Linked DNA regions of Homo sapiens: region 2 is linked to region 1. Evidence: fine-mapped expression QTL. Tissue or cell type: fibroblasts. Region 1 holds a variant in brackets; the other region holds the start of a gene. All regions are shown on one strand. Distances are between the middles of the regions.

Region 1 (7,738 bases):
ACTAACATTTCCATAAAGTCTGTGCATGTCTTCTGTTAGATTTATTCATGCTCTGTTATATTTTGTATTGTTATTATAAATAATAGCCTTTTTAAATTCTAAATTTTTAATTATTACTGATATAGAGCAATATAACCAGCTTCTCATATCTGGCATTTTAGTAAACCCTGTTATTCTTTGTAGACCGTTATGCCCTTAGTCTATTATAAAAGTGTTCCTTCTTTTCCAATTTTCTACCGCACTGGATCCGTGAGCATCTGGACAGTGCAAGCATCTTGATGAGAGCTTTAACTGTAATGAGGAATAGAAGTGTTGACACCTGGCATCTTGTCAGTTTCCTGAATTTAAAGAAAATGCTTTTAAAATTTACCTTCAAGTATCATAATTGTTATAGGATTTTTGTAGATATTCTTTTCATGAGTAAAAGTTGAATCTTATCAAATCTATTGAGATTTTATGGCTTTTCCTTTTTAATCTGCTAAATATGATAAAGTTTGTGTTAATAAAATTTCTAATTGTAAACCACACTTGAGTTTTTGTGATAAGCCTACATGGGATTTGATCTGTTTTCCTTTTTATACATGGCAGGATTCCATTTTTTTGTTTTATTTTGTTTTGTTTGAGATTTTGCGTTGATTTTTACATATAAGACTGACTTGTGATTTGCCCATCTCATCCAGTCGTCATCTAGTGCTGGTTTTCAGTATACACTAATCACATAATGTGACTTGAGGCATGTTCTTTCCTCTTCTGTTCTCTGACATATTTTATGTGTAAAAATTATGTGTTCCTTGAATATTCAGTATAACAATTCTGTAAAACGACCTGATCTTTGTATTCTCTTGATGGGGAATTTTTAACCTCTGTTTTAATATTTTTTAACGGTTAATATGTACCCTCTTTATTTTTTTCCTCTTAGCCTGTTTGGTTGTGCTTTTTCTAGGAATTTATTCCTTTCAACAATGTTTTCAAATTTATTGCCACAAAGAGGTTGATATTATTCTTCTAAATTTCTATAGCTGTTGTTGTAATGACCTCCTTTACTTCCTCATATTGAAAAGTTTTACTAGTATCTGGTTAGTCTAGTCTGAGTTTTATGAATTTTGTCATCTTTTGAACAACCAACCTTAGGTTTTACTGATTTTTCTCTTCTCTGTATTTGTTCTCTATTTCATTAATCTTTGCTTTTATCCCTCTTATTTCCTTCATTTTATTTTCTTAAGGTTTATCTTGTACTTTTTTTCTAACTCTACAATTTAGATAAAGCTCATTAATTTTGAACTTTCCTATTTTTCTAGTGTTAACATTTAAGGCTATAATTTTTCCTCTAAAGACCACATTAGCTGCATTTCTCAAGTTTTAAACATCTATTACATTTAGTAATTTAATTATTTTTCTGTACTAAGTATTTTATAATCTCTATTATAATGGTTTCCTTGACTCGTTATTCATCTATAAATAGTTGAATTTTTTTGAAACTTGCTTTATGGTCTAGTGGGTGGTTGACTTTCATATTCAATAATTAGATACCATGTTTTATAGAAGTCTTTTAGATAAAGTTTGCTAAGTATGGCTTTCAAATCTATATTCTTATTCTTTTTTGTCTACTTGATCTAGCAATTGCTGAAAGAATTGTGTTAGAATACCCCCAATGAAAGCCGATTTATCAGGTTCTTCTTGTTCTAATATATATATATATATATATATATGTATATATACACGTTAGGCTGTATTAATAGAAATTAACACATCCAGAACTTTATATTTTTAAGGTACATTAAATCTTTTAACATTATATAATGATTTTTTAAATTTCCAGTAATAGTTTTAATATTAACATATATTTTGAATTATTTTATCATTACCATATACTAACCTTTTTATTGATTTCTATGTTGTTTCTTTTAATTTCAAGCATTTCTTAGTCATATATTTTAGACATTTTTCTTATAAATAACATATACGTGGATTTTTAAAAAATATTCTATCATCCAATATTCATCTTTTTCCCCCACTGTTTATCTTTTAAATGAAGTGTTTACTTCATTTCAATGTTTTGTAGTTACCAGTACACTCAGAATAATTAATCTATTTTATTTTGTACTATTTTTTCCAATTCTATGTTTGATAGAACTTCATCTGGGGAAATGCTTTGAGACCTACTTTCAAGGGGCTTTAATCTATACAGGATATTTATTACTTTCAGTTTAAAACTTTCAAATCAGGATATATTTTAAATAATTTATAGATTTGAATTAGTTTTGGCCAAAATGAAAGTGTAAATAGGTAAGGGCTACAAATTTGAGTGAGGGCTGGCTTATGAATTAACAGGAGAGAATTTTTCTTTCCACTTAAATGTAAATTTCTCTATTCCCCTGTAAGACAAGCTTTCTCCTAACTCACATATCCCCTGTGGATGACGACCCATGTGGTCTTGGCTTTATGTGAGGTGCTCCTGTCAGAATCTCCAAGTTAGGTCTCTAAGATTTGCGTACTATCTTTATCCCTCAAATTCACCAAAACTGAACTTTAGATCCCCAAGGAGTAGCAATTGCTTCTCACTTCTCTTGGTTTTGTTTGTTTTGGGGCTTCAGAAACCTTTCTACTCTAAATTCCTGCTTTCACTAATTTTTGGTTCTTGAAAAATTTATCTACCTTCTTGACAACTCGGTTAAATGTTTTTAAAATTTAACATATTTTTAATATATAATTTTTATGTTGGGATAATTGTTTAGGATATCTAGTTTTTCACACTACTAAACCTGAAAGTTCTTTCTTATTTTTTTCTTTTCTGTGTGTGTGTGTTTTTTTTTTTTTTGAGGCGGAGTCTCGCTCTGTCGCCCAGGCTGGAATGCAGTGGTGCGATCGCCACTCACTGCAAGCTCCGCCTCCCGGGCTCATGCCATTCTCCTGCCTCAGCCTCCCGCGTAGCTGGGACTACAGGTGCCCACCACCACACCCGGCTAATTTTTTGTATTTTTTTAGTAGAGACGGGGTTTCACCGTGTTAGCCAGGATGGTCTCGATCTCCTGACCTCATGATCCGCCCGCCTCGGCCTTCCAAAATGCTGGGATTAGAGGCATGAGCCACCGTGCCCGGCCTCTCATTTTTTTTCTTAAACATTTTTATTATATTTGAATATTGAAAGTCCATAAAGTTCATCAAACAATAAAATATTCATTCTTCATCATGACAAAGCTGTTTAAAGGGTAGTAGATGTGGAAAGGTCCAGGGATTAAAAGATTAAAAAGAATCTGTTGTAAATTTATTTATCTGCATATATACAGTGCTAAGAGAGAGAGGAAACAAAAGTGGAAGCCAGATATTCACCCATATCTGGCTATGATATTGTATGATATTCACCCATTCATCCAGTCAGTCAGTAGATAGGTATGCTGCACTTACTCAAGATCAGAAACTGGGCTGGGTGCTGGGGAGTATAGCTGGGAACAAGACAGACAGGATCCTTGCCCTCACAGACCTTACTGCCCATCTGAAAGTAGGCTGAAGATACAGAGGATTTGCTGAAGGAGACAGAATGGAGAAAAGCCAGAGCATAAACAAGAGCTGATGTGAGCAAACAGGAAGGCCATAGACTACAAAAGGCGTGGCTGTTCAAGTAGAAGCAGCCTGAGGAAATCAGTTAGAAAATGCCAATCTTGCACATGGCAGTGGCATTCCAAGCATGGACCTACATTCGTTGGGGGCAAATACGATCTCTTAAAGGACCATGATGTCTAGAGATGAGAGCATTTAGAGAAATTTCTAGACTGACACAGTTTTTAAATATCTGTAATAAGATTTTTGCATCTGTCGTATGTTCCAAATTATAGTGGATAAAGTATTATGAAATAGCAATAAATGAACTAGAACTAAAATCCCACGTCACTTTTGTTTCCGGAAGACAAGAAACCTTGTATTCAACTTGAATCTTATGAAGGTGTTACACATCCCTGACCATTGGTCACTCTTTGGATGTCAAAAATGTCCTTTATTTACACTTTATGCAGCTTAATTCAATAACAATTTTCCTGGTAAGTGCTTCTCATGTGCCACTGGGGAACAACTGCTTTGCTACACTGCACTTAAAAGGAGTTTAAACTAAAGAGACACAAATTTTACCCTCTTATCTACTGTGGCTGTTAATATGCTAAGAAAATAATATTTTAAATTATTGAATTTGCGCTCCTAGGAGACATCAACATAATTGCAGAGAGGCACCTTTAACTTTTTTATATACTTATTAATAAAGAAGAACTTTCTATTCATACACCAAAAAATTGGTCCAGTGGAACAAAACAGTAATGCAATAAAACTTCTAGTTCATTAAGTTGGAATGCTGGGATTGAATTACTAATTTATGTTGTTTTTAATTTCATATTATAAATTCTACTATTTTAAATTATAGGGAAAAACTGTTCCCTTGGAATCTGCCTACATCCAACACTGACTAGGAAAGTTTTATTTGTCCCTGGGGAGCTGGGAAGTAGGGGGATTCACTGAAAAATTGCTGTTTCACAAGAGCACACCATGAAACATTCATAGTCATGTTTCCTGCATTACAGGAAGCTTAATAAACATAGCCAGTCACTTATAAATACTCA[T/C]GTCATTCTAAGGCATGTTAAAGGCATCTTTATAAAGAAAAAGGTGGATTTTGAAAATTCGACTTCAGAGGTATCAGACATATTTTCCCAGAGATTGCCCTCTGAGACAAGGACAAGTGCACAGTTTACAGGCGATCAGTGCTCTGGAAGTGAAGGGAAGGAAGTATGCAGAGTTGGGTGAAGGAACCACCCTTTCTTCTCTACAAGGACTGGAAATGGGCATGACCAGGGTGCAGTGAATCTTGGCAGCCCAGCCACTTGCAGTAGAGGGCTGTAGCTGAGGGCTGTCTGCTGGCAGTGCTGGCAACTCACAGCAGCAGTCCTGAAGGAGGGTCTGTGAGGGGCATCACGGCATCCACTATTAAGAAGAATTTCAATAAAATCAGATAAACATGTGTCCAAAAGTAACAAAGGAAAAATATCTGACTTGGAAGATTTTAGTCCATTAAACATTGTCTTCATTCACTTAGCAACCATTCCTTTGGTAATTATTTTGTGCAGCCCTTTCACTGGATGCCATGGAGATGAATTAATCACGGGAGGAAGGGGTCATGAGCACTGAGCACCCAGCGCAGGCCAAGCATTTTATATAGAGCTCTCCAACCAATCCTCACAAAAACTATATGAGATTGGTACTGATTCTGACGAGAAAACCGAGATTTTATGAGTGTTAAAAATTAGTCCAATGCCACATGGTAAGTAAGTGGTAGAACAGAGAGGCAGTCTGTTCTGCCTGAGCCAAGTCCACACTGTTCCCAGGGCAGACACAAGCAAAATAGAGCTGTGCCACATTTCAAGTACAGGCAAAGATCTGAGAGAAGTGAATAAATCTAACTAACTAGAAGAATGAAGATTAGGGGAGCCTGGAAGACCAAGTAGGATCCCCAGGGTCTGAATAAAAAGGACAAATTGAAAAAGGTGCATGATGATTAGGGACATAAAAGTAATTCATTCTCCACACAGGATTCAGTGTGATCCTTCTGAAACCAAACCACGCCATACTTAAAACTCTCACCCTATACCTCAATCCAGCAGGATTCAGCTCAAAATCCTTAACACAGCACACAAGGCCTAAAGCCATTGACATACTCTGGTCTTTGCTTCCCTTGCCAGCCCCAGCCCTTGACATTCTTCAGCTTAAAATCTGTACCCAGGTTAGGCTGAACTGCTTTCTGTTCACCCAGACTTGCTCTTGCGGTCTGCTTCTCTGTGTCTCTCTCTGTCACCCTGTCCATCTCTCTTTGTGCCTCTCCCAACTTTCTCACTCTCTTCTCTGGCTTTCTTTGTTTTTTCCCTGTCTCTCTGCTGTCTCTTTCTTTCCCTCTGTTTCTGTCTCTTTCCCTCTCTCCACCTTCCTATGCATCCGTCTACTCCCACACTAGGCCTCTGAATATATATTTTACTCTTGTTGGGACACTCTCCACTTTGCTGCCTCTCACCTCACAAATTCCCATTCATCTTTCAGGTCTCTGCTGCAGGGTCATTCTGGGAAGCCTTCTCTGGGTTTGATGTCTTCCTACATGCCTCTACAGCTTCCTGTGTCATCTACCCTATAGCAGTGTTCTCACACTTTATTAAAACATCCTTTCTTCCTAACACCATCTGCTCCTCACCGGACTGTTAGCTCTTTGAGAAATAGGACTTGTCACATTCACACTATACCACTTGACCCATGCATGGTAACTGGTGCACAGTAGGCATTTAATCATGTTTCAAAGAACAAAGGAAGGAAAGAAAGAAAGAAGGAAGGAAGGAAAGAAGGGAGGAAAGGGGAGAGGGAGGGGAGGGAGGAAGAAAGGAAGGAAGAGGAGCAAAGAGAGAATTGAGAATTATATTTGACAATTCAGATTTATAAAATATCAACTCTTACAAGAAGCTATTGTAAAGTTTACTAATAGATTTTGGATGAAAACAAGAAAAGGAAATGTAGGCCGTTCAATTTCAGAATGTTTTCCTGTGAATGCTAAAATGTGCCTCTTGAACTAGAGGATGTTTGGTAGTAACTGGGAGAGAAAAAGCTAAAAAGTTTTTCAGTTTTTCAATGCATTTGGAGCATCTTTATTGCTATGGTCTTGACATTTGCTACATTTGCTGTCTTGGTTCCTTTGGAGTTCCCCTACTGAAAAGTAGATTTTTCTTCTTTTGCTTTCTTTTTCATTCAGATCCACCCTCTTACTCATAGTTTTGTAACTCTTCAATTATAAAACTATTATATGCTTATTACAGACATTTTAGGAACTGCAGAAATATATAAAGAATAAAACTCACCCCCAAATGTTCCCACATAGAGATTGCAATTATATGTGTTTTCCCCCCTTCTCCTTCTTTTTCTCCTCCTCCTTTATTACAAAATTGCAATAGAGCTATATATTCAATTTCACATTCTGCTTTTTCCCCCACAAGACATAACATAAACTTTTCCCCAAGTCATTAAAAATTCCTCAGAAGAAAGATTTTAATTGGTATGATATATTTAATTATATGAGCACATCTTAGTTCATTTAACAATTCTCTCACTTGGGAACATTCAGGTTCTTTTTTTTTTTTTTTTTTTTTTTTTTTTTTTTTTTTTTTTTTTTTGAGAGAAGGTCTTGCTTTGTCGGCCAGACTGGAGTACAGTGGCAATCACAGCTCATTGCAGCCTTGACCTCTGGGGATCAAGTGATTCTCCCACTTCAGCCTTCTGAGTTGCTGGTACCATAGACACATAACACCACACCTGGCTAATTTCCATATTTTTTGTAGAGAAAACATCTTGCCATGTTGCCCAGGCTGGTTTTAAATTCCTGGCCTTGAGAGATCCTGTTGTCTCAGCCTCCCAAAGTACTGGGATTATAGGCATGAGCCACCAAGCCTAGCCTTCAGGTTACTTTTTATTTTTATTTTTTTATTGAGACGGAGTCTCACTCTATTGCCCAGGCTGGAGTCCAGTGGCGCGATCTCTGCTCACTGCAAGCTTCGCCTCCCAGGTTCATGCCATTCTCCTGCCTCAGCCTCCTGAGTAGCTGGGACTACAGGTACCTGCCACCATGCCCAGCTAATTTTTTTGTATTTTTAGTAGAGACGGGGTTTCACCGCATTAGCCAGGATGGTCTCGATCTCCTGACCTTATCATCCACCCGCCTCAGCCTCCC
Region 2 (7,738 bases), 440 kb after region 1:
CAGCTTAACTCCCGCTTGGGATGTTTGCTTTTAGCCTGAAGTCCAGTAGAGGCTGACCACTTACTTAAACTCTAGGACCAGAGGGTGCTCAACCTTTGCACATCTAATGACCCAGTCCCACCAGATGGTCTTTACTTAGTATGGCATTTGCCATGAATTTGCCATCAGATATTGGAAGACTAACACATGCTTCCTGAACCCCTTAAATTCCGCCAACTAGAAGATTTTTGAGGTGAAGGCTGCATACTCCCCGTAGACGCCTACTCCTTTCCTCACAACCCTGTTAACCTTTGGCCTTGCCATTGCTCTTCCCCCCATCTCCAGGAAAGACAGCAAAGTCTTACCTAATGTAGTCATTTCTGCAAAGGATCATGCCACTTTTGGTGTAACAGGACGTGCCGATGTCGCCCAGCTGCGCCTGGCAGCAGGAGCACTTGAGGCACCGGCTGTGCCAATAGCTGTCCATGGCATAGAGCAGAAAGCGGTCCGCAATCTTGCCCCCGCAGCCTGCGCACCGCTTCCAGGAGAGGGAGCCGGCCGTCACCGGGGGCGGCTGCGAGCTGCTGCCCGGATTCACCATGGTCTGCAGAGGGCGGGAAGGGGACAGGGAGAGAAAGACAAAACAGGGGCGATGCAAAAGTTAGTAATCGCCGGAGAGAGAGCAAGCCCATTCCCCTCCTCCCCGCGGAGCTGCTGGAAGGAAACAGCAGGGCAAGGGCGGGAAGGAGGCTGAGGGGGAGAGGGAAGAAGGGAGGCTCGCCGGCAGCAGCCGCCTGTTTACTTTTCTCAAGCTTTGTTCTGGGGCCACGAGCTCCTCTCAACTTTCCTGCGCTTGCCGCCGCTGACAATTTCAGCTCCGGTACTGTCAAAACTCCGAGAGCAGGCTCCGCTGCGCGCTCCACCCCTCGCGGCACCTCCTCCCAGCCCCCGCCTCCGCCCACTGCCCCCTCCTCCCCTCCTCCGCCGCCCGCCTCCAGCAAATGAGGGTCAAACCCACCCACCGCCGCGCCCGGCCCCTCCCCAGCCCCCGCCGGGCCCCGGGACAGAGCCGAGAGGAGTGGGGAGGCGGCGGCCCCGCCGGAGCCTCGTTCCCTCCCGGGTTCTGCCCCGGGAAGTGCAGCTGCAGTTCACAAGTTGGAAATAGTTCGGTTTTCCGAAAGGGAACGAGGGAGGGACCGGCAGACGGGAGACGGAGAGCGTGGTGATGGGAGGGAAGGCAAGGTGACGGGAGGGGTGGGTGCAGTGTGTAAAGTTGCGAAACTGGTTTTTCGTATTTTAAGCAGCACCTTTCACATGCCATTGTGGTGACCGCCATCTCCCATTATTGTTCCAAATCTCATTTCATTTTGAAGATCAATGAGTGTTTTCTCTGGGTTTTCAGGACACAGGCAAGAATAATAGATCATTGAACTTTAGGATGCCTGTTAACTTCCTATACAAACACTCTCCACTTTGGTCTCACTAATCTGCCCTTGATCAGCAATTTAAATGCTAAAGCTTTGTTCCTCCAAAGGGCGGGGGGGGGGGGGGGGCGGGCGGCGTTACAGATAATGTGCGAGAAGGCACCATTAAGGGATGCACAAGTTAAATTCGAGCCCGTCCTGCTGTCACCAAAAACTGCTTTAAAAAAGAATTCCCCACTCTAATGAATGCCACAAGAGATGCAACTGGGATATAATATAGGAATCAATTTATAAAGCTTAGCCTAAACCGATTAATTTGTTGCCTTCAATCCCGAGTCCAATAAAGTCCTAGTGTTCCTCTAGTCACTTATTCTGTAAAAAGATCAAGTTATTTACTGCCAATTAAGCAGCCTGTATTGTCTTTGTCCTCTGTAAGCTGAGAGTGTGGGCTCCCCCTGAGGCTCCCGGCTATCTGCTCAAGACATTCAGCTGATACCTCAGAAGAAGGCGAACTTTGCCTGTACCCGGCCCAACTTGGCTGCTGCAAAAAAAACGAGGAAGGAACGAAACAAGGACTCGGGTTCCTTAAATAGGCCGATTTTAAACACATTTCCTCCGAAAGAGTCCCGGAACGTGTGTCCAGTGACCGCACAATAAACCAGAATAAGAACTGCACCAATTAAGCTGTAACAAAACCCTGAGACTTTGGAAACAGGACCACTCTAAAACCCATTAGCATTGCATTTATCCGAATGCATCATACCTTTATGTAAATTGATTTATCTGATGCATTTACTCGAGGAATTGCTTTTTGTTACAATTTCAGCCCTAACCCAAATGAATCTGCATTTCCTGCCCTAGATCTTTAAACTGTTTCCCCCAACGTTTTAATCGCTCCGAATTCCTTTTTAAAAGGAGAGTGAGGGAGGAGATTCCAAGCTCTTCCCCGCCCCCATCTTTAGTGAGAGGTAAATATATATGTATTTTTTTTTTGAAAAGGAAACATTACACTGAGAAAAGCATCCAGTAACCCCATTAGCTAAAGCTCTTAAGGACAAGCAATACCTTAATGCTGATTAAATCTAAAAGAGATGAATCAAGAAGACTGACCAGAAACTGACTCCCCTGATAACTAAGGACGGGCCCTCATCAAGTTTCATTTAGAGTTGGAAAAAAAAAAAAAAAAAAGAAAGCTTTTAAGTTAAATAGGCTTATACTCTAGTAATTACATAGCCAAGCAATTTAGGTCCTGGGATAGTCAGTGAAATAGAAAGCAGAACTGGCAGCTAGAGGCAAAATCTGCCCCCCTTTAACAACGTCTCTGGTGTTTTTTAATGGAGACCAAGGGAGGGACAAACGTAACGCTGGCAATTTGTAGTACAAAAATGGATGCTTAATTCATGTCTTGATTTTAATTAGGTGATTCACCGTATTTCTCCTGGATTGGAACAAAAGACTTATAAGCCAAGAAGAATTTTTTTAAAAGAACCAGCAATACCGAATCCTGCTCACTTAGATCCTTCCTGCCACTGTTTCAAAAATAGTGTTTACTAGAAGGGAGGGGGGGTATCGTGACTATCCCCACCCCCACCCCCCCAAACACACTACTTCTCATACTTAAAATCCTCATCTAAGCACCCCTTGCCTTTCCCTTATGAACTAGAAATATCCCCACCCCCTCTACGGTCCCCACCAGCCCCGTTTCCAAGAAGAGCCCTTTTGTAAGCAGGAACCGCTACAAAGCTGGCGGCCCGGGGCTGCCCTCCGCGCTAGCTCGCAGGCCGGCCTCGGTAGTTTCAGACTCGCGCTTTATCTAAGCCGACGTATTGTTTACTTGCAATTTGGGACGGTCAGGGGAAGGAAGCCAAAGAAAACAGCCCTGGCCCGAATCGACCCCCTCCCTCCCTCTCCCACCTCCCGGCCCGCGGCTCTCCACCCGCCCCCTTACCTGCTTTTCCCCTATATTGCAATATTGCGAGAGGCGGCGGCGGTGAAATGCGAGCGAAGCCGCTCGGCTTCCAGGGAAGGGGCGCCTGGGCTGGCGGAGCTGGAGGGAGGGAGGGAGTTCTCGCAGAAGCAGGAAAGGGGAGGAGGGGGCTAAGGGCGGCTTTTTTTTTTTTTTTAAATCGCGTTGCTCTGGGGCGGGTTGGGGGGCCCCCGCGTAAGTGCCGGGCGGCCGGGAGCAGAAGTGTCAGTCTCAGTCTTCGTCCTTCTCCGCCTCCGACTGCGCGCGAGCAGCTGCAGGAGCCCTCGGCCCGCGCGGCGCGGCTTCAGGCGCGGCGCAGCGGCAGCAACTGCTGCAATCGCTGCTGCAAGTTTGGCAATGTGGCTTCACTTTGTATATTCCCCCGCCCGGGGGCCCCCGCCCCCGCCCGCGCTCCTCCCGCTCCTCCTCCTCCTCCGCCGCCGCCTTCCTCCCTCCCGCGCGCTCGCTCGCTTGCTCGCTCCGGGATGGCAGCGGCGGCTCGGCTGAGCTCCCTGCACCTCCGGCCGGGAGCAGTCGCAGACACAACAGCCCCGGGAGCGGCGGCGGACGGTGCGGAGGCCGGCAGGCAGGCGCACCCAGGCGTCGGGGGCTGCGGCCGGCCGGGCCCGGCGCGCTGGAGCCTGCGCCGCTGCCGGGGCTGTTGCTGCCCGGCTCGGAGGCGGCGGCGGCGGCGGCGCTGGCCTCTAGCCGGCTCGCTCGCTCCCTCCGCGGCTCTTACACATGTGTTACTGACAGAGCAAAATCCCAACTACTCCCCGGCTCTGCCTCCGACGTCAGCGACCCTCAGCCACTGGGCGGCCGGATTGTTCAGGCGGAATAATAAAACCTGCCAATCCGGGGAAGGACAAAGGGATGACTGAAACGAGACTCGGGGGGCGGGAGAGAGAGCGAGGCGGCAGAGCTGGCCGACAGAGGAGAAGGGAAGGGCCCGAATCAGGTGGGGTGAAGTGACCCGGGCGCCTGGGGCCGGGGACCCGCTTGGGCTGCCCTTCGCGACCCGGGATCCGGAGTCGAGACGCAGGGCGGGGCCTCACCTGCCTTCTCAGCGCACGGGGACCCTGAGGACCCGCGCCCGCTCGCCCCTCGGGGACTGCCATCCCCTCTATCTGAGAGGAGACCCTTAGGAAACTTACCATCTTTCTCAGAAATGGGTCTCTTCCTGTTTGGGAAGATAAGTCCTGCATCTTAGGGCAGTGGACTTCTATCCCCTCACGCACAAGCACACAGAAGAGGATTTTTGTTGTTGTTTCTTTAATTCACGATATTGGAGATTTATGAACCGTAGTGGAAGCTTAGTTAACAAGGTAGAAACATAAAGGAAATAATAGTTGCTAGCTAAATACTGCCTACTTAGCCTCCCTCATACTCCCATTTTTCCGAGTTTGAAAGTGCCTAGCAGGCATTTCCTGGATCCTTGTCAATTGCTGGTGATGTAGGGAGCACAGTCCTTATTTTCAAAGTTGACGAAAACTTAAGGGAGAAAGCCTTTCCCGACTACCCTCCTCACTGTGGAGGATGAGAGGCGGAAATTCTCACAGCCCCCAAAAGCAATGGAAGTAATTGCAAGATTTGCAATCTCACAGCCTCTAGAGAGTAAGAAATGTCACTTCTAGTATAAATCAAGTTTTGAGGAATGCTTTTAGGGTGCTAGCCTGAGAGTCTTTTTCCAAGGCCGAAGCACAGCCTAGATGCTTGAATACCTAGGCATTCGACTTTATCTACTCTGCCAAATAGGTTAAATAAATCTCCAGACTGAGGCTAATATTAGGCCTGATTATTGTTAGTAAGTTCCAGAGAGATTTTTCTGGTGGAAATTATCATGAAAGTGCAAAGCCCTTCTGCTAAGTATCATTAAGTAAAACCAGCCTTGTGGGGCAAGTTTTCATATTGTGTTACACACAGTACTGCTAGATTGAGGAAAGGAACCTGAAGGAGAATCTGGCGAGACAATGCAGATGTTGAACATTTAGGGTTTTAGTGTCTATTTGGGGGATTTCTGTCTTTCAAACCATCAAAATTAATAAGGCTGCATAAGAAAGAATAATTATTGCCCATACAGTCAGGTAGAGGGCATTTTAAATATCAATTCAAATACTCATTTTTTAATTCTAGCACCTTAAAATTAAATGAATTAATTTTATTGATTTGTATTTAAAGTTGCACTGCTATGATGAATTCACCTTGTGCACATATAAAAAACTTTTTTTAAAAAAAAGTCATTAAAACTATAATAGTAATTAAAATGTCCTACACAGAAAACAGCTACAGATGGGCATGATTAAAGAGGACCAACTTAGAAAAGATGTAATGCTGCTTGAAGGTTAGTCAAGAAAACTCAATTAAACCAGATGAGGAGAGGAACACCATAAACAAATAATACATTTGAATCCCCTGGTTCATTTTCACTTTTTAAATAATTTATAATAAAAGGAGATGACACAAGATCTTAGTGGGCTACAATTAAGTTATGATTTGTCATGTGCAAGTAAATTTCCGTCTCTGGGCCTTAATTTTCTCATCCACAAATGAGAGAATTAAGCCAAATGGTCTTTATTTTTTCTTTTTAAAAATGATTTTCTTAGATAGAGCACATAATGCATAGATGTATAACGAATTGTGGTACTTTTCAGGATTTTTCCTGAAGAATATGCACTAAAACGAAATCTTAATTCCTGAAGGAAATGTTAGAAATTTAACCAGACACATGTTCAGCTATCATTGAGTGATTATCCAGAGGATCCCGGTGGTGTTTGTGGAAGGAAGGAGAGTGAGATGGATAAAACTTTGAATAACAGAGCTCTAGGCTACAGGGCCTACATTTTAGGAGGTGGTTTTAGTGCTTCAGCTCTAATTCTGTGCGGAGTGAGGTCTTTAAACATGTCCTGGTAGATTGGAGTGGATGGGAGTGTATTACCAGAGAGCTTTATTTGCTGATGTGTGTTTATAGAAATACAAAAGCGATAATGGCTAACAGTCTCTCTTCTGAGAGGTAGGGAGTAAATACATTCACTGTAATCAAAATTCAGGTGTACTTTTACCACAGCGCCACCTCTGGGTAATCTTTATTTCTGCATTCTTTGCGTTTAGCAGTCCTTTCTCATCCTGATTTGTGGTCTGAAAATGCCTGGTTGAGTGGGTAGCAACGTCAATCTTTTATTTCCACTGATGCGAAACACAAAAACCTTGTAAACACACACAAATTCAGTATGGGTAAAGAAATTCTGTATTCGGATATTCTTCAAACAAATATTAAAAACAGTGCATAAAGTAATATTCCTGGTATGAAGTAAAATTGCCTAACTCGAAATAATGTTATATTGTGCCCCACAGTTGACGAAACCTCTGCTGATATCACACATTCATCATTCATCCTACTCATCTGCAATGAGATATAAGATTAGGGGGCTTTGGAAAAGAAAGATAAATGTAAATCGTTTCTTTCTTGAATCCTAATTAAATGTGGGAACCATACTGCTCCTAGATCAAGCCGTCATTTTCTCCACTTGCCCCAAAATTATTTGTTCATAGCTTCCTTTCTCGTTTATGTCCTTCAATCATAATCATTCTTTTCTCCAAGTGACAGTTCGCTAAGAATCTCCCATGGACAGCCAGAGGTTCTACACAGACCTATGCAGCCTTTAATGTCTGGAGAAAGTCTAGGCTATTTGATGCTGATATGACCTCCAAGACAACATGCCCCAGCTCTTTCTCAGGAAAAAATATTCTGTCCTTTTAAAGTCAATGCAAAACCGTTTTTGAAGAAAGTCTTTTTAGGAAGGAAAATTTTTAAAAATCTGCTCAACTTTATTGCTGCCATCACAGAGATCCCTTGATATTCAGTTTCCTCCAACGTGAATACAAAAAGCTTGAGTCTAGGACAACAATTCCAGAGTGTAAAAGGTGTGGAGAGAAAAGGGAACAGTAGTTACCAACAGAAAAAACCCAAGGAAGAGGAAGGGCAGGTTAGGTCCTGGGCCAGTTTTCTGTGGTGGCGTTGTCGTCTGAGCAGCAGGGTGTATGGCACAGTAAGTATAGTCGGACCTGCTGCTTCATTTAAGAATAGGAGTTTACAGGCCCAGTGGCCCACGCCTATAATCCCTGCACTTTGGGAGGCCGAGGCAGGTGAATCCCTTGAGTTCAAGACCATCCTGGGCACCATGGCAAAACTCCATCTCTACTAAAAATACAAAACTTTAGCTGGGTGTGGTGACATGTGCCTGTAGTCCCAGCTGCTGGGGATGCTGAGGTGGGAGGATCACCTGAGCCCTGGAAGTTGAGGCTGCAGTGAGCCATGATTGTGCCACAGCACTCTAACCTGGGAAATGGGAGTGAGGCCCTGTCGCAAAAT

Direction of the effects. Alleles are on the strand shown, and positions count from the first base shown. SD is a standard deviation of normalised expression in the study named.
For the expression in fibroblasts of the gene that starts at base 3,716 in region 2, allele T in region 1 goes with a lower level than allele C (small effect, 0.32 SD a copy in GTEx).

The links. PIP is the estimated chance that this variant, and not a neighbour inherited with it, causes the effect.
Region 2: it holds the start of LMO4, and the variant in region 1 is fine-mapped to the expression of LMO4 in fibroblasts (GTEx, PIP 0.93).

The regions. Positions count from the first base shown.
Region 1 is chr1:87,762,668-87,770,405 of GRCh38, reverse strand. No RefSeq gene overlaps it. Among named protein-coding and RNA genes, the nearest start is that of LINC01773, 140 kb to the left of the region's middle. The variant T/C (reference allele first, on the strand shown) is at 4,605.
Region 2 is chr1:87,324,858-87,332,595 of GRCh38, reverse strand. It overlaps LMO4 (LIM domain only 4), which reads right to left and starts at 3,716. Exons shown (of 5, transcript NM_006769.4): 1 at 3,352-3,716; 2 at 345-583. The coding sequence starts at 580. RefSeq lists enhancers at 595-1,233, 1,234-1,872, 1,542-3,087, 2,653-3,228, 3,229-3,806 and 1 more and silencers at 926-1,285, 2,652-2,741, 3,665-4,094, 4,345-4,514, 6,484-6,533.